Homo sapiens: one gene and its partners. The protein of the gene in region 1 purifies or fractionates together with the protein of each later gene. This does not show direct contact. Each region holds a gene or a part of one and is shown in the gene's direction. Other genes may lie near its edges.

Region 1 (3,820 bases):
GGCCAGTTACAGCTAGGAAGTCTTTCTAGAGCTCTAGGAGGAAAGGTGAAAGGAAGGGAAAGAACAACAAAACAGAGAGAGGGAAGAAAAAGAAAAACCTCTCCAACAGCTATGCTTTATTTCATTCATAGGAATGAGTCTTTGCCCTAACATGGCTTTATACTACAAATGATAACTACTGTTCATCAAGCAGCTATGTGCTATGTGTTTCACATGCATGGTATCATTTGATTGAATCCTCACTAAAACTGTAAGGAAACCACTATCATCTTGAAGACATCAAGATCTAGTACTTACCCATGGATATATACATAGAAATTAACCTTGCTAGGACTTGATAGTTCTTTGGAATCTAGGGCCCCCGCACTTGACCTTCATATTGTACTGTCTCCCGAAGAACAATACATGTATCTTGTGGACCATGGGCAAGCTGCAATTTAAAAAATGCTGTTTCCTTGCTCGTGCCTTGGTTGCTAACCTTTCTCACTTAAATCCTATCAAACAACTTATTTGGAGTCAATGGATAGTGAGAATGCAAAAGAAAAAGTGGTGAGCACACAGTGTGCAGAACTGGAATCATAAGAGAGGCACCTTGGAGGGGGCCACAAGTAAATGCTGAAATATCAAGTAGCTGTGGTGTGAGTCTTGTTTTCACTAAAACTATTTTTAAGGAGGAGTTACTACATGTATTGTAACCCCATCCTCTATCCCACTCCCTACCTCATATGTAATACTGCTCCACAAATGGAAGGGTACAGAATTCAGATCCTGGTTGCCCCTCTCCCCAAAGGAAAAAAAAAAAAAAAAGATAGTCAAGGACGGTCTCTATGGAAGGACCCAGAGAATCATTTCATCCAGTATCATGGGATGTGAGCACCCTTCAGCAACCCCCTCCATTTCCCAAATCATCTTGCAGCCTTAGTAAAAGAGAGGAAAGAGATTTACCTGCTTCTATTGAGGTTGAAGCCTGAAAGTCATGTATAACCTTTGAAGCACTGTAATGGTTTTAATCACAGGAATAGCATCTTTTTGAGAGGCAGGAGAGAGAAAGGAGCTGAACCACTCTGCAAATATTAACCCGGCTATTTTGGAGCAATGGCTATTGCCTTTGAAATCTTTCATCATGGGTCTATACTTAGAATTCAGATGAGCGCAGGGGGAGGGGAATAGGGCAATGTTAATCCCCAGTTGTTTTGAAGTTGTCCTGTAAGCAGGTTAGTATCTAAACTGCCCAAAATGGAAGGGTTCAATGCTTTGTTTAAGTTATGTGATTCTCTCTGTGTAACCTGGTCTGCACATAGATTGTCACAACACTCTGGGAGGTGACACTTCTCAGTTTTCTTTCAAACTAGATGTTCTAGAGAGCACTAGCTGCAATCACATTGGGAGACTGATGCTCCATGACAGCTAAAAGTTGGATTGAGTTTCAGGAGCTACTATATATAAAGCTGGGTCGACTTATGTCACTGCACTAATTAAATGCCATCTGGGTGGTTCCTCTGGGTTTTTGAGTCCATCACCCAGTTCAGATCGAGTCAGAGGCCAAGGAGGAGAACATGATGATGGACCTTTTTGAAACTGGCTCCTATTTCTTCTACTTGGATGGGGAAAATGTTACTCTGCAGCCATTAGAAGTGGCAGAAGGCTCTCCTTTGTATCCAGGGAGTGATGGTACCTTGTCCCCCTGCCAGGACCAAATGCCCCCGGAAGCGGGGAGCGACAGCAGCGGAGAGGAACATGTCCTGGCGCCCCCGGGCCTGCAGCCTCCACACTGCCCCGGCCAGTGTCTGATCTGGGCTTGCAAGACCTGCAAGAGAAAATCTGCCCCCACTGACCGGCGAAAAGCCGCCACCCTGCGCGAAAGGAGGAGGCTAAAGAAAATCAACGAGGCCTTCGAGGCACTGAAGCGGCGAACTGTGGCCAACCCCAACCAGAGGCTGCCCAAGGTGGAGATTCTGCGGAGCGCCATCAGCTATATTGAGCGGCTGCAGGACCTGCTGCACCGGCTGGATCAGCAGGAGAAGATGCAGGAGCTGGGGGTGGACCCCTTCAGCTACAGACCCAAACAAGAAAATGTAAGCCTAGATGCTGCCGGGGCAGGGAAATGCGAAGGCTGATTAAACGCCTTCCGCGGGGCCTTAACCTCCAGCTGCTTGGTCTTTTTTCCCTTCCCCCTTTCTCGCCCGCCCCTCCCGCTCCGTCTCTAATGAACCCCCAGTGACCCAAGAAGACCGGGTGCTTGCAATAGGCAGGAAATGCGTACCCGGCCCGAGGAAGCAGGAAAGCCGCCCCCCACCCCACCCCAACCCCGGAACCGATGTTTCTTTCCTAATCTGCCGCTGCCTTGGTTTTCCCTCCAGCTTGAGGGTGCGGATTTCCTGCGCACCTGCAGCTCCCAGTGGCCAAGTGTTTCCGATCATTCCAGGGGGCTCGTGATAACGGCTAAGGAAGGTAAAGTAAAAGGGCTCTGGGCCGCACCAGAGAAAATCCGGGAGGTGGATAGGATGCTTGGGCCGAGAGGGCTCGAAGCGAGAGCAGGGACGCGCCCTGCGAAAAGGGCGCTCTTTGCGCGCCGGGACCAGGCCTTTCCTCGCTGCCAAAGCGGCCTCGCGCGGGGCGCGGAGCTGCTTCGTGTTCCTTCTTTGGGTGCTATGTTTGTGTGTTGTTTTTTCGCTCAGGAGGAGCAAGTATTGATTCGTCAGCCTCGAGTAGCCTTCGATGCCTTTCTTCCATCGTGGACAGTATTTCCTCGGAGGAACGCAAACTCCCCTGCGTGGAGGAAGTGGTGGAGAAGTAACTGAGCCTGCGCTTGAGACCTTCTCCACGCAGCAGGAAGATCCCACCGACCCTTCCTGGCCTAATCCTTTAGATTAGGTCACATTACATTAACATTTAGGAACCCAGACCGAAAAGTTGCTGAAAGGGAAGGAGACACATTCACAAAGAAACGTTGCGAAAATTGCGAAATCTGTTGTGCATGCTCAAATGAAAACGCCTTTCGGCTTTGGGCTTTTATTTTTTTGGAACTGCGAGTGGCTTAGGTCTAGCCTCATTTTGTTTTTGTTTGGTTGGTTTTATACTATATTAACTTTTATTACGGTGATCCTTTTGTGCCATGTTCAAAAGAAGTTCATTCCTGTCTAAAGTGGGAAAGTTGCATTTAATGTTAGGGGTATTTAATGTATTTTTGTAAATAGTTTAACACTTTCTTTTTTTACGTAAACCTGAAATATATTTTAAATGTGGAATGATGTATATAAAATGTGCGAGGATCCTGGTATTGTAATATTAAAAAGAAGTTTCTATATGAACAAAGTTGGTCCTAATTTGATGGAACTGGAAAAATATGTTTGGAGGCATGTGTACAAAAATAAAGAGGAGCCATATTTTAATTTAGACACCACACAAGCCCATTTATTTGGGTGTTTCCTTACATGCCAATTGAAAGGAAATTTGGCTTTCCTTAGTCTGAATTAAACTGGATACTGTTCTCTCTCTCGTAGACCTCACACTTGTCATTGGAAGTGAATAGTGCCCAGAAGAAAAATGTCATTTTTCCTTTTATCAGCATCTTTTTCCGTCTGGTTTTACACTCCTATACCTGGAGATCTGGGTGAGATTTACTTACCCAAAGTTAACAATGGAATTTTCAATCTAGGAAAATATGGTTGCAAGAAATTACCACACCAAAACTGTGCTCATTTCCCAAAAAGATCTTCAGCGGATTTACCCACAAACGGCCTTCCCTCTTAGCCTTCCCAGGCCGCTCTTGTCCTGAAGTGTGGATCTGGAGTTCCCGGGGCTGCATCCGGCATCCTCA
Region 2 (3,517 bases), on another chromosome or scaffold:
CTTAGGACACTCTTAGAGCCAGATGAGCTCAAGGGTCTGCTTTGTCATTTTTAGAGAACCTCATGGTTGTGAAAGCTCACTCAGCTTTGCTCAGAGGTTTATATCCTCCTCATTACTTCACAGACACCTAGGACTCTGTTTTATTACAGGGTTGAATAAATATTAGCTTTGCAATTAAAGATAACAGTGTCCATTACATGTCAGACACGAGGGCCAAGCGTTGCATATATTACCTAATTTGTTTTTCATTGCAGAACTATTATTCTCTTTTTAAAAATCAGGAAACCGGGCTTTGAAAGGTAATTTTACCCAGCTTACCCAGCAAATACAGTGTAGACCTGGACTTCCGACTCAGGTCTCATTGGCTCTGAGGCCCCTGGGCTCGCCACTGCTCTTTGCTGACTCGTTGTCTTTGATTAAGACACTGAGTTTCAGTCTGTTCCTAGGCCCTGAAAGGATGGTAGATAGGCCACATCTGCTTTTCTTTCGGAGGAAACAAATATTATTTTATTGCATTATGCTAAAGGCTGTCACAGATTTATAAAATTGTAGCAAAGTGCCTGAGGACATGAAGGGCCTAAATCAGAGGAATAGTAGATGAAACTTCACAGGAATATATCAGACAACATAGGCGTCTTTAGAGAAAAGGAAGGGGAACCAAGAGTTCCGGTCCTGCTGCCCACTGTCCTGCTTGGACCCACAAGTGAGCCAGGGCCTCCTGTGGCCCCTGCTTACCTCTGTGCTCCCTGTCCTGGAGGGGTAGAGTGACTTAGGTGCTTTTGATGGAACGATTAACATCACGCCTGGCCTGGCGTGGCTCCGTCTCCCGTCTTTCTAGGAGATGGGAAATAAGGTCCCAGAGTTTTGTGGTGCTTTGACTCAGCTTTCGGTCTGCTGAGACTCACTCACAAATGTGTCATTCCGTTCTGCCATCCGCTTTGTTTTCTTTCTCTTTTCTCAGTTCTCAGAATCTTTTTTCCTAATTATTCAACCAACTTGTTGACATCCTTCTCATGCCTATGACAGGAAGGCAGTCCTCACCCCAGAGTGGCCCTAAGCTATGTCTGTGGCTCAGGAGCCCTCTCCACGGGGCCTCTGCCTGGGATGGTCCCTGTGATGAGTTAAGTGAATAAATGATGAGATATACGTGAGAGAATTTCACCTGGTAACACCCTTTGTTTTTTGGACCAGGATTCCCAAAGAAATTACAGTGAGTAATATTCACCAGGCCATTTGCAACATTCCTTTTCTGGACTTCCTCACAAACAAACACATGGGAATATTGAATGAGGACCAGTGAGCGGAGTGAGGTGCCCTGGAGAAGCAGGCTTTGAAGGCACAGCGAAGCTGTAACTGAGGACCCTGCTGCTCGGGAAGGAGGTGGTTTCCAGTGTGACTCGGCATGTCATGGCTACCCAACCTTTGCCGCTGCCTGTTCCCACGTGTCACCAGCACGCTGCACTCCAGATGAAATCCTCCTAGGACAGGAGTTTGTTTCCTGAGTGTGGAGTGAGGCTGTCAGTGGATCCGTGCTTTGTCGGCCAGCGTTTCTGCAGTCTTTGTAAAGGCCCCACGAGAGCGGGCCAGGCCGTGTGCCTCAGGCCCTTCTCCCTGGGTGTGCTTAAGGGGGCTCCTTGGGCCCGCCTCCCCAGGAGGTAGAAAATGAGTGGCAGGCTAGAGATTTCACCCATTTTGTGGGCTGGAGTTACCAGTAGCTCCAGCAGTTACCCTGAAGAGAGATTGGGCTTCAGCCTTCAGCAGGTGGTTCTCTCCCATGCCTGGCCTTGGTGTGGAGGGGCTGTACTCTGAGCCCAAGTGAGTCAGCTATAGGAAGAGGCCATACCTAGAGCCAAGAACCATGAAGGCCTGAGAGACGGCAGACTGAGCAGAATTCCTTTTTTGAGCACGAGAGCATTACTAGAACCATTGTCAAAGCAGTGGCAAGGGACGGAGAGGTCCCAACAGGAGTCAGGAAGAGGTTTGATTATAACCAAGAAAACTCACTATGCTAGGAATAGACTGTGTGCACCAGTCCCAGACACTTGGCAGAAGTGTAGCAGCGTTACACATGTGTGCGAAGCAGATCGCAGGTTCCACGCCATCTGCATGGCCTGCAGGAGCTTCTGCTGCTGACCCCATGCTGAGTGGCCAGTGGGGAGCGGCGCCCGGCAGGCTCTTCTGGGGTCGTCTGTCCTATCCGTGGATTGTATATACTCTTCTCTGTTAAGGAGTTTTTCCCAAGAAGAAAAGTATTTAAAAGAAATACCAGTGAGTGCCTTAAAGTTGGAGAAGTAACTGCCCATGCCCAGAAATAAGGATGCCAGTGCCCAGAAGCAGTGAGATTAGTCTGTGTCCACAAGCAGAGGCCCCCTCGATGGGAGGGAGTGGCAGGCAGGAGAAGGTGGCGCTGCCAGGTGCCCGGGTCTATTGGAGGCGCCCCATCTCAGACTTCCTAACACAGCCTGTGTGGAAGGCAGAACAAAGAATGCATGCCCAGTCAGAAATCTGTTCTATTCTGCTCCAGGAAAATCGGAAACCTGTGAGTCAGAGTCAGAGAAACTTACCCAAGCAACGTAATTCCTGTTTTCATGGGTCCTGTAGATGTTTGAGTCAGGAAGGTAAGGCGGGGAGTGACTGAATAAACTCTGCCTTTTAAATTGAGCATCTGGGCCGGGCATGGTGGCTCACGCCTGTAATCCCAGCACTCTGGGAGGTCGAGGTGGGTGGGTCACCTGAGGTTGGGAGTTCGAGACCAGCCCGACCAACATGGTGAAACCCCGTCTCTACTAAAAATACAGAAAATTAGCTGGGCATGGTGGTGTGTGCCTGTAATTCCAGCTACTCGGGAGGCTGAGGCAGGAAGAATCACTTGAACCCAGGAGGCGGAGGTTGCAGTGTGCCAAGATCATACCACTGCACTCCAGCCCTGGTGACAGAGGAGACCCCGTCTCAAAAATTGATTGATCAATTCAGCATCTGAGGGCTGCAAGTACAGAAGGAATCTATTCTCAGCAGGGCATAGGGCACGCACTGGCTTAACAGTTTAGTATATAAGGCTCAAATAGTCTATACCTGAACTGCTATAAGCAAGGTCGATAGGGAAGTGGATAGATTGCTTCAGCAAAGTGAACTGTGAGATCTCCAGGACAGAGGGAGAAAGATCTGATCCAAATGAGAACAGATTGGTTATTGCAGGTATCACAGCCTAAAGAAATTATCTTTTTGCAAAAGAAATATTAAATGATTTAGCAGTCTCCACGTGTGTTAATGTTTCAAACGTGTATCATAATGTGTATAATTGTGTAACAAAATTGTCTACAATAAATCTTTTGGTATTTGTGGTGGGTGTTTCTGAGTTTGAAGCATGGTACTCAGGCAGGGTTCTCCCTGCACTGGGATGAGGTGATGGTGTAGAGTCTTATTGATATGTTTAAATTAATTCCTCTACTTCTTGCCAAAAAAAAAAAAATGTTGCAACCGTATAAGATAAAGGATTACAGTTACATAAAAGTCTAAA
Region 3 (3,517 bases), on another chromosome or scaffold:
TTCAAGCTATTCTTCACTAATCAAAACTATACCTTCTGGAAGAATTCAAGGCCAGGACTGTAAAAGCAGATTAAATGAACAAATACTAGGCAATTATTCAGTAATAACTAAGTTTTCATATACTTTTTAACTTGTTTCTACAATGGTACATAAAATTATTTAGGTTAGCACACCCCACCATGCACGACTAATTTTTGTATTTTTCGTAGGGACAGGGTTTCACCTTATTGGTCAGGCTGGTCTTGAACTCCTGACCTCAGGTGATCCACCCGCCTGGCCTCCCAAAATGCTGAGATTATAGGCGTGAACCACTGCACCTGGCCAGGACATACTTTAAATTCTTAAAAATTGTAACCATTTCTCATTTGTCACAAGATCTAAGAGAATGCTATACAGTGTAATGAAGTTCTGAATTTTCTTTCAGATGTTTACAGGTTTTTCTTTTATGCCTTTAATATGTTATTAAAGTTTAAATGTAAAAAGGTGGGGGTTTTTTTGGTGCTACCCATCCCCCTTCTCCAGCCACTAGGAAGAAAGCTGTGTGTGTGTTCCTGGAGTGGCTTACACACAGCTTGTAGCATCCAGGGTGGGCAAAAATAAGCCTGTTTTCCAAATACTGGGTATTTGTGCTCTGATCACTGATTGCTGCTTCTAATCATAGAGGTGAAAAGAGATGGCAGCCATTGTTGTTATAGCTCCCCTCATTGCAAAAATGGGTAAAGGCATTTAATAGACACTTCTTCAAAGATATTAAAATGGCCAATAAGCACATCAAAAGATGCTCAGCATCACTAATCATTAGGGAAATGCAAATCAAATCTATAACACGATACCACCTCATGCCTCTTAGGATGACAATTATCAAAGAAACAAAACAACAACTGTGGGCGAGAATGTGGAGAAATGGGAACCCTTTTGCAGTGTTGGTGGGAATGTAAAATTGTACAATCGTTGTGGAAAATGGTGTGGTGTTTCCTCAAATAGTTAAAAATATAATGATCATATGATCTGGCAATTTCACTTCTGGGTATATACTCAAAAGGACTGAAAGCAGGGTCTCAGAGATACTTGTATATCCATGTTTTTAGCAGCATTATTCACAATAACTGAGATGTGGAAGCAACCAAAGTGTCCATCAGTAGATGAATGGATAAGCAAAATGTGGCATATACATACAGTGGATATCATTCAGTCTTAAAAAGGAAGGACATTCTGGCACATGCTGCAGTGTAGATGAACCTTGAGGACATTATGCTGTGTGAAACAAACCAATCACAAGAAAACAAACACTGTGTGATTCCACTTATCTGAGATACTTAGGGTAGTGAAAATCACAGATACAGAACGTAGAATGGTGGTTGTCAGCACTTGGCGGGGAGGGTGGAATTGGGAGTTGTTTAACGGATATAGAGTTTCGGTTTTGCCCTGTGAAAAGTGTTCTGAAAGTGGATGGTGGTGGTGATTGTACCATATAAATGTACTTAATACCACTGAACTATACTGTTAAAAATTGTTCAGATAGTAAATGTTATGTATATTTTACCACAATAATAATTTTGGGGGAAAACTATTGAGGCCATTCATAAATACTGTGTTTGTATATGTCCTGGCAACAAATTTATTCCATTCCATACAAATGTCTCATTATGTGTTGTGCTGTGATTTAGCTGGCTATATTAGTTTGCTAATGATGCTGTAACACAAACTGGATGGCTTAAACAACAGAAATGTATTCTAGTTCTAGAGGCTGGAAATCTGAAATCCAGGTGTTGATAGGATTGGTTCCTTTTGAAGGCTGTGAGGGAGAGAGTATTTTATGCCTCTCCCCTAGCTTCTGTTAGCCACAGGCCTTCCTTGGCTTGTAGATGACGTTCTCCCTGTGTCTTCATGCATCTTCCCTCTCTACACGTCTGTCTCTGTGTCCAAGTTTCCCCTTTGTGTAAGGACACCAGTCATATTGGATTAGTGTTCAACTTAATGACCTCATGATCACTGTTTGCACATAAGGTCACATTCACAAGTACTGGGACTTCCAACATCTTTTGGGAGGATACGATGAAATCTGTAACACTGGCCGATAATTTTATAAACATTTATGTTATTTCCAGTTTTTCTGTGTTTAAGTTAGCCTTGTGGGGCATATTCTTGTATATATATCCTTTGTGTTTTTGTGATTAGAAGTAGATTTGCGAGGTCAGAGGATACACACAATTTTGCTGTACATTATGAAAGTAACCTCCAGAAAGTATATGCCCATTTATAGTCCCACTGTCAATGTACAAGTACGCACCCGTTTTCGACACAGTAAATAACACATTGGTTTTTAAAATCTTTTGAGTCTTTGTCAGTCTTTTTTATTGTTTTTGTTTGTTTGAGATAGGGTTTCACCCTGTCACCCAGGCTGGAGTGCAATGGCACAGTAATGGCTCACTGCAGCCACTACCTCCCAGGCACAAGTGATCCTCCCACCTCAACCTCCCAAGTAGCTGGGACCACAGGCACGTGCCATCACACCCAGCTAATTTTTTTATTTTTATTTTTTTGTAAAAATGAGGTCTCACTATGTTGCCCAGACTTCTGTTTGTTTATTGCAGTAAAAACAGTGAAAATTTACCATCTTAACCAGTTCCAAGTGTACAGTTCAGTGGTGTTAAGTATGTTCACGTATTTGAATATAGATTCACAGATGGCCAGAACTCTTCTCAGCTTGCAGATCTGAAACTCTATCCCTATTAAATAACTCTCCATTCTCCCCTCCCCACAGCTCTAGGCAGTCACCATTCTACTTTCTGTGTCTATGAATTTGACTACTCTAAATACTTCATATATGTAGAACCATACAGTATTTGTCTTTTTGGGACTGGCTTATTTCACTTAGCATAAGTGTCCTCAAGGGTTATCCACATTGCAGTATGTGATAGGATTTCCTTTATTTTTAAGACTGAATAATATTCTATTGTATGTGTTTATGCTACATTTTGTATTTATTAGAGAGGATTTGGAAAGATTAGAAAAAGATAAGAATGTAGGAGAGGTACTTTGGAACCAAAAGCTTGGGGGTTTCATTCTCTCCATCTCAGATAGTGCTTTTTTTGAGACCCAGTTTCATTCTTGTTGCCCGGGCTGGAGTGCAATGGTGCAGTCTTGGCTCACTGCAGCCTCCGCCTCTCGGGTTCAAAGATTCTCCTGCCTCACCCTCCCGAGTAGCTGGGATTACAGGCATGTGCCACCACACCCAGCTAATTTTGTATTTTTAGTAGAGACGGGGTTTCACCCTGTCAGCCAAACTGGTCTCGAACTCCTGACCTCAGGTGATCCACCCGCCTCGGCCTCCCAAAGTGCTGGAATTACAGGCGTGAGCCACCGCACCCAGCCTCAGATAGTGCTTATGCCTACTATAGCTGAGCTTATTTGTTTTGTTTATTTTCTGAGTTTTCTATTAATATTACGTCTCTGTTCCTCAGAATGGTTTTCCTTTGCCTTCCCAGCAATACCTTCCAACTGTTAGACTGGTCTT
Region 4 (2,804 bases), on another chromosome or scaffold:
ACAGTCAACTGCATATATTACAGTGATCCCATAAAATTATAGTATGGTATTTTTACTGTATCTTTTCTATGTTGAGACGTGTTTAGATACACATATACCATTGTGTTACACTTGCCTACAGTATTCAATACAGAAACATGCCATAAGGTTTATATGCTAGGAGCAATAGACTATACCATATAGCCTAGGTGTGTACCATCTAGGTTTCTATAAGTATACTCTATGATGTTCACACAATGACAAAATTAACACATTTCTCAGAATATATCCCCATCATTAAGCGGTGCATGACTAGGAACCTGGTAAGGTAAAATAATGGGTGAGGAGAGACAATTTTGCATTACCTTTCTCCAGCTCTTTCTTTAGTGTGCTGTGCTCTCAAGTATTTTCTCTCAGGTACCAAAACCTGTTAAAATGTCCACCTTTTATACTTCTATACAGATGGGGTTATGTCCCAATAAACCCATCAAAAACTGAAAATATTATTAAGTCTAAAATGCATTCAACACCTCTAACCTACCAAACATCATAGCTTAGCCTAGCCTAAAACATGTTCAGAATGTGTACACTGGCCTATCATGTACAGTTGAGGAAAGTCCCTTGGCAGCACAGTACACTGTAGAGTATCGGGTGTTTACCCTCATACCCCATGGCTGACTGGGAGCTTTGCTCACTGCCACTGCCCAGCATCACAAGAGAGCATCGTATCACATGTCACTAGCCCAGGAAAAGATCAAAATTCAGCATTTGAAGTACAGTTTCTACTGAATGTCTGTCACTTTCACAGCATTGTAAATTTGAAAAACCTTATCTAGCCATCATAAGTCAGGAACTGTACTGAGATTTCCTTATACCTAAAACAAACAGTAAAGTTAATCTAGTGTATCCACGGTAGATATGGTATTTCTAAGTGTTCTTTTTATCAAAATATTCTGCTCAGAGCTAAAACAAGTCCAAAAGGCCACATTTTACTGTTTTTAAGTCACTGAGCGACTGATGACCTTATTTTCCTCATTCTAATATTTCTTGCTTTGGTTCTATGATACAGTAGTAATCTGATTGTTTAATAGCATGGAAACTATCAATATATTACAGGTTAAACGATTAGGAGAACAAGGGGAATTTTTTTTTTTTTTTTTTTTTTTTTTTTAAGATGGTGTCTTGCTCTGTCGCCCAGGCTGGAGTGCAGTGGTGCAGTCTCGGCTCACTGCAACCTCCGCCTCCCGGGTTCATGCCATTCTCCTGCCTCAGCCTCCCAAGTAGCTGGGACTGCAGGCACCTGCCACCACACCCGGCTAGTTGTTTGTGTTTTTAGTAGAGACTGGGTTTCACCATGTTAGCCAGGATGGCCTTGATCTCCTGACCTCTTGATCCACCCGCCTCGGCCTCCCAAAGTGCTGGGATTACAGGCATGAGCCACCACGCCTGGCCAAGGGCAATTATATTTGCATCAAGTGTATAAAAAGCCACCTCTTAGGAAGTTAGGAGACTGATCAATCGCCAAATTAAACATTGATTCCTTATTTGCCCATAGGCCCTACCACAGGTATCCAGCTTGGTTTGGCAAAGGAAGGAGCATAATTATCTGAGCTCTATTATTTCTTAATTACTAATTCTAATACTTAATGATTTCCCATTTATTGTAACTTGATAAGCATACCTAGATGTTCTTTGAATCAACTTTTGACACAAAGGAAAATGTGAGTTTTAATGCTGTCTTTAAAATCTCAGTAGTCAGAAATGCTCATGAGAACATTTTGTCTTGGACATTCACAGTTTCTTTGTCAAATATACTCATTTACTAATTTGCCATTCAAAAGCTAGTGCTTGTGTGAAACTAAGAAAAAGTCTAGAAAGAATTCATTAGGCCAAAGTTTAAAAGGCTCATTAGTGGATCAGTGAGAATGTTGTTAGCTTCAACTAAGAAATTTGAACTCAAAACTGGCTTAAACATTATGTAAATTATAAAATAGGAAGTCCATGGTAGCACAAGCTTCAGATTTAATTGATTCAGTGGCTAAATCATAATTGTGAGAAAACAGGTTTCTTTCCCCTCTTAACTCTGCTTGGTGTTAACTTCTTTCCCAGGCAGATGGCAAGATGGCTACAGCACTTTCAGGTGTCTTACCCAATACGGCAGTATCCTGAGGAACTGCCTTCTTTAAGGGCTTTCTCTCAAAAGATGTGAGGAAGCTTTTTCCAGAAGCTCTCCTCTTAATCTCCAGCAGACCTCTCCTTTACTCATTGGCCAGAACTGGACCCATGCCCATTTCAGTCACTGACAAGACCGGGAAGCCATTGGCTTGGGCCACACAGAGAAGTAGTGGATAGGTAGCTGCTTGCATAAACAACCACAGTGTCTACTATAGTCAGTCCAGGGTGTGTGTATGTGTGTTTTCACCCCTTGGCCTCATATACCAGATTCCGTTTTTCCTTTGTCTGTTGTCACTTCACTTGTTCAATACCCTAGGATGGAAAGGTTATGAAAAAAAACTAAGCAGAAAATCCCCAGAGCACCTCTTTCCGAAATCACTCAGGCTCATTAGCAGCGGGTAGTTGATGGGAAAATATGTATTGCCAAGGATGAGCATGTTGCTGCAATATTACTATTATATATTGTTAACGTCATCCTCTTTAGAGGGTAACTTGCAGAATATAAGGTAGATGTTGGTTACAGACAGTAATTGGTATTGGTAAATTGGTTGGTTTTTTTTCTGTCAGGGTTCCCAAGGCTGTACATAATTTGTACAGTATTTTATAAAGAAAAAAAAATGATGCTTAGATTTTTCTAAACATTACCTTTT
Region 5 (4,212 bases), on another chromosome or scaffold:
TTGGGCCAGGGGTGCGTGTCCATGCATTTTGGGAAGGAGTCCTTGCTGTCTGCTGGTCTGTGTGCTCGGTGTCCGGGGAAGTCTGAGAACCATGTTGTTCACTCTCTTCAGCTCTGTGTGTTTGTGTCAGTCAGTGAGAGCATGAGTGAGTCGTGTGTCTTTTGCCCTGCACCTCCCTTTCACCTGTGGCTTAAGAACTCTGTACTATGCGGCCAACAGCCCACTCTTCCCCAGCTCTCAGGGTGGCTCTGAGCTAGTCTATTCCCCTTCTGGGCCTCTCTCTCCTTAGTTGTTCTCAGAGGCTCCTTTCCAGAACTGGCCTGCAGATGGTCAGGAAAATCCTCTGAGTAGCGTTATTGTAAATTCCCTACAAGAGGAGAATGGAGAAGGCCCTGTGGAGCCTGGCCTGGGCAGAGAGGAAGCCCGGAGGGGAGACAGGACAGAGACACTTATAAAGGACAAGAAGGGGCCGGGTGTAGTGGCTACACCTGTAATCTTAGCGCTTTGGGAGGCGGCATAACCTGAGGTCAGGAGGTTTGGGAGGCGAGGCAGGCGGATAACCTGAGGTCAGGAGTTCAAGACCAGCCTAGGCAACATGGTGAAACCCCACCTCTACTAAAAAAAAAAAAAAAAAAAAAAAATTAGCCAAGCCTGGTGGTGCATGCTAGTAGTCCCAGCTACTCAGGAGGCTGAAGCAGGAGAATCACTTGAACCCAGGAGGCGGAGGTTGCAGTGAGCCAAGATTGTGTCACTGCACTCCAGCCTGGGTGACAGAGCAAGACACTGTTTCAAAAAAAGAAAAAAAAGAAATCAATGACTAAATTATTGGGCTTACAAGATAGCAGATCAGCCTCCCGAGTAGCTGGGACTACATGCATGCACCACATCTGGCTAATTTTTGTATTTTTAGTAGAGATGGAGTTTCACCACATTGCCCAGGCTGATCTCAAACTCCTGGCCTCAAGTGATGCACTCGCCTCGGCCTCCCAAAGTGCTGGCATTACAGGCGTGAGCCACTGTGCCCACCAGCAATGACCGAATTTGTATCATCAACTTTCACACTTCTCTGGGGAACTGACAGTCCCCTGGGTGGAGGGTGGAGTGGTAGCAGGGCCAAGCCCTTGGAAACCAATCTGTGAATCTGAGACTTTGTCCTTGGGGGGTGATGGAGACCATGGAGGATTTTGAACAGGTCTTGGTGTTAGAAAGATCTCTCTGGAGTCTTCAGGGGAACTGGAGGGCCCAGTGTGAGTGGGTGGTGACCCCATGAGCAGCTGGGGCTTGGGGTCCCTGCTCCACCTCCGGGCCCCACCCCCTGACATCACTGTCGCATTATTGCACCAGGTCTGGCTGACCAATAAGCTGCTGCTTGCTATGATAATGGGTCCTAGCAACGGTGTCTGACCTTGGCTAAGAGGGAAGGAGATCCTATCAGTGGGGAGAGTGTGAGGGGAGAGGGAGAGCCTGCAGGGCAGGTGAGTCCCCCAGGGCTCTCTCGCTGGGCCCCTGTGCGTGGGCGGAGCAGGAGCTTATGGTCTAATCCGGACCCCCTCAGCCCAAATTCCAACCACTGACTTGTCTGCCCCTTGCTGCCAGGACCTGTTCCAGGTTCCTACTCTTCCCACCGCAGACCATACTAGGGAGAGGGCACACCCAGGATAGGAGGCTCAGATCTGGAGGCAACAATGTCTTTTTTTTTTCCTTTTTTTTTTTCTGAGACGGAGTCTCGCTCTGTCGCCCAGGCTGGAGTGCAGTGGTGCAATCTTGGCTCACTGCAACCTCCGCCTCCTGGGTTCAAGAGCTGGGACTACAGGCATGCGCCACAACACCTGGCTAATTTTTGTATTTTTAGTGGAGATGGAGTTTCACCATGTTGGCCAGGCTGGTCTCGAACTCCTGACCTCAAGTGATCCACCCACCTCGGCCTCCCAAAGTGCTAGGATTACAGGCGTGAGCCACCATGCCCAGCCGGGAACAATGTCTTAAGGACATATTTCTGTGGGGGGTGGAGTGGGGTAGCAGAGGATGGGGTGAGTGGTAGGAGGTGAAGAGACGGGGTGCAGGGGGCAAGGAGACAATGCAGGAGGCAGGGACATGCAGCTGAAGGGAGAGTAGCTCTCTAGGTGGGTGAAGGAGCCTGGGGACCTGGGTTGGGGTCCTGGCTATGCCTCTGGATGAGGAGACCTCATTTGTCTTGTCTGAGCCTCAGTCCTTCTCCCTGTCAAATGGGGACAGTGATCCCAGACATGAGCAGCTCTCCCAGGGCACCCTGAAGACCCTTAGTGAGTAAATGTATTTTAGAGATGATGGGCCAGAGGAGGGTGAGTGGGAAGAGGGAGGACCAGGGAAGCTCCTGGTGAGGAGGAGGGATCTGAGGGGGGACCATCACGACAGGAGCTCTGGGCGGTGGGAGGGGAACTGAACCCCGGGAGGCAAGGGCTGCCATGGCAGGGGTGGGGTTTCATGGAAATGACTCCTGGTGTCCAGGTGGTCCCCATGTCTGGCTTCCCGAACCCAAGGGCGTCTGAACCCAAAGTCAGCCTAGGGCTAGCTGAACGGGGTTTGTGGGCATCACAGCAGCCCTGCGAGGTGGGGAGGAGTATCCCCCACGGGGCAGCTGAGGCTCAGACAGGGCGAGGACTTGCTCAAAGTCACACAGCTAAGAATATTACTAATGATAAGAATAATGACGATGATGGTGATGCCAATGACACGAGGCACCTGCCCTGAGCCAGGCGCCGTTTTATGGGCTGCTTTATGTCATAACTCATTCAAGTCACAGAGATCCTAGGAGGTGGTTTGCCAGGATTGTAGGTATCATTCTCAGTGTTCAGATGAGGAGAGTGAGGAGAGAGTTAAGTAACTTGCCTCACATCACTCAGTAAGTATGTGGTGGAGCCAGGATTTGATCCCAGGCAGTCTGGCTCCGGGTCTGGGTCCCCTCCACCCTACCCTCCAATCCCAGCCACCGCAGGAGTGCAGCTGTTTCCTCTGAATGGGCCTGTACCACCCTTTCCTATGCAGCCCTGGCTATGTAATTTGCCCTGGCTATATAATTTGCAAGGCCCAGTACGAAATGAAAATATGGGGCCCCTGGTTCAAATATTATAAAGAATTTCAGGCCAGGCATAGTGGCTCATGCCCTTAATCCCAGCGCTCTGGGAAGCTGAGGCAGGAGGACCTTGATCTCGGAAGTTCAAGACCAGCTGGGACAACATAGTGAGACTCCCATCTCTACAAAAAATTTAAAAAGTAGCTGGGCATGGTGGCATGCGCCTGTGGTCCCAGCTGTTCAGGAGGCTGAGGTGGGAGGATTGCTAGAGCCAAGGAGATCAAGGCTGCAATGAGCCATGATCGTAGCACTGTGCTCCAGCCTCGATGACAGAGAGACCCTGTCTCAAACAAACAAACAAACAAACAAACAATTTCAGCTAGTGTCAGCAGAGCATTAAACCAAGCACTGGGCCATTCTAAGCACAGAACCCTCCAGGGCACACATACACCCAGAAAACTGACCTGTGCCTAGGTTACCCTGGAGACTCCAATAGTGCTCCAAGAGGCTGCTTGGTGGTCATGCCCATTACCCAGAGAGGTGCTTCATTTTGCCCCTGGTCACACAGCAAGTTAGTGGCAGAAAAGGGATGTGAACCTGGGCCTGCCAGACCCCAAAGCCCTCTAACTTGTGCCAAAAATGTGTCCCCAATTCTTGAAGGAAAAAGAGAGCTGTGGGCTTCCAGGGCGACTCCCTTCACATCCGTGGTATCTGTCTCTCCCTGCCCCATGCCAAGGCCCAGGAGGTGTGAATGGCTCCCTTCTCCTCTGCAGGCGCTGAGGATCACGCATCCTGTGACTCTCCCCTGTCCCCCGCCACCCTCTGAACCACTGGCCACCATGGCTACTTCAAAGTTGCCCGTGGTGCCTGGGGAGGAGGAAAACACCATCCTTATGGCCAAGGAAAGGCTGGAGGCCCTGCGCACAGCCTTTGAGTCGGGTGACCTCCCCCAGGCCGCCTCTCACCTCCAGGAGCTGCTGGCCTCCACGGAAAGCATCCGCCTGGAGGTGGGCGTCACGGGCGAGTCGGGCGCGGGCAAGTCCTCCCTCATCAATGCCCTGCGTGGCCTGGAGGCCGAGGACCCTGGCGCGGCTCTCACGGGCGTCATGGAGACCACGATGCAACCGTCGCCCTATCCACACCCACAGTTCCCTGACGTG

The links.
Region 2: the proteins of MYF6 (region 1) and YEATS2 purify together in Homo sapiens (affinity purification with mass spectrometry; one large-scale study listed by BioGRID and IntAct). This does not show direct contact.
Region 3: the proteins of MYF6 (region 1) and KAT14 purify together in Homo sapiens (affinity purification with mass spectrometry; 2 studies listed by BioGRID and IntAct, with this or other methods). This does not show direct contact.
Region 4: the proteins of MYF6 (region 1) and MBIP purify together in Homo sapiens (affinity purification with mass spectrometry; 2 studies listed by BioGRID and IntAct, with this or other methods). This does not show direct contact.
Region 5: the proteins of MYF6 (region 1) and IRGC purify together in Homo sapiens (affinity purification with mass spectrometry; 2 studies listed by BioGRID and IntAct, with this or other methods). This does not show direct contact.

The regions. Positions count from the first base shown.
Region 1 is NC_000012.12:80,706,164-80,709,983, forward strand, and holds MYF6 (myogenic factor 6), read left to right. Parts: upstream 1-1,470; 5' UTR 1,471-1,556; coding exon 1,557-2,075; intron 2,076-2,360; coding exon 2,361-2,451; intron 2,452-2,678; coding exon 2,679-2,797; 3' UTR 2,798-3,311; downstream 3,312-3,820. UniProt on the Homo sapiens protein: Involved in muscle differentiation (myogenic factor). Induces fibroblasts to differentiate into myoblasts. Probable sequence specific DNA-binding protein.
Region 2 is NC_000003.12:183,809,284-183,812,800, forward strand, and holds the end of YEATS2 (YEATS domain-containing protein 2), read left to right. Parts: intron 1-735; exon of another isoform or gene 736-1,168; intron 1,169-1,191; coding exon 1,192-1,300; 3' UTR 1,301-3,341; downstream 3,342-3,517. UniProt on the Homo sapiens protein: Chromatin reader component of the ATAC complex, a complex with histone acetyltransferase activity on histones H3 and H4. YEATS2 specifically recognizes and binds histone H3 crotonylated at 'Lys-27' (H3K27cr).
Region 3 is NC_000020.11:18,154,861-18,158,377, forward strand, and holds part of KAT14 (cysteine-rich protein 2-binding protein), read left to right. Parts: intron 1-3,517. UniProt on the Homo sapiens protein: Component of the ATAC complex, a complex with histone acetyltransferase activity on histones H3 and H4. May function as a scaffold for the ATAC complex to promote ATAC complex stability. Has also weak histone acetyltransferase activity toward histone H4.
Region 4 is NC_000014.9:36,300,838-36,303,641, reverse strand, and holds part of MBIP (MAP3K12-binding inhibitory protein 1), read left to right. Parts: intron 1-2,804. UniProt on the Homo sapiens protein: Inhibits the MAP3K12 activity to induce the activation of the JNK/SAPK pathway. Component of the ATAC complex, a complex with histone acetyltransferase activity on histones H3 and H4.
Region 5 is NC_000019.10:43,714,668-43,718,879, forward strand, and holds the start of IRGC (interferon-inducible GTPase 5), read left to right. Parts: upstream 1-1,408; 5' UTR 1,409-1,475; intron 1,476-2,209; exon of another isoform or gene 2,210-2,282; intron 2,283-3,712; exon of another isoform or gene 3,713-3,780; coding exon of another isoform or gene 3,781-3,891; coding exon 3,892-4,212. UniProt on the Homo sapiens protein: Required for sperm motility and therefore male fertility, via positive regulation of spermatozoa fibrous sheath formation.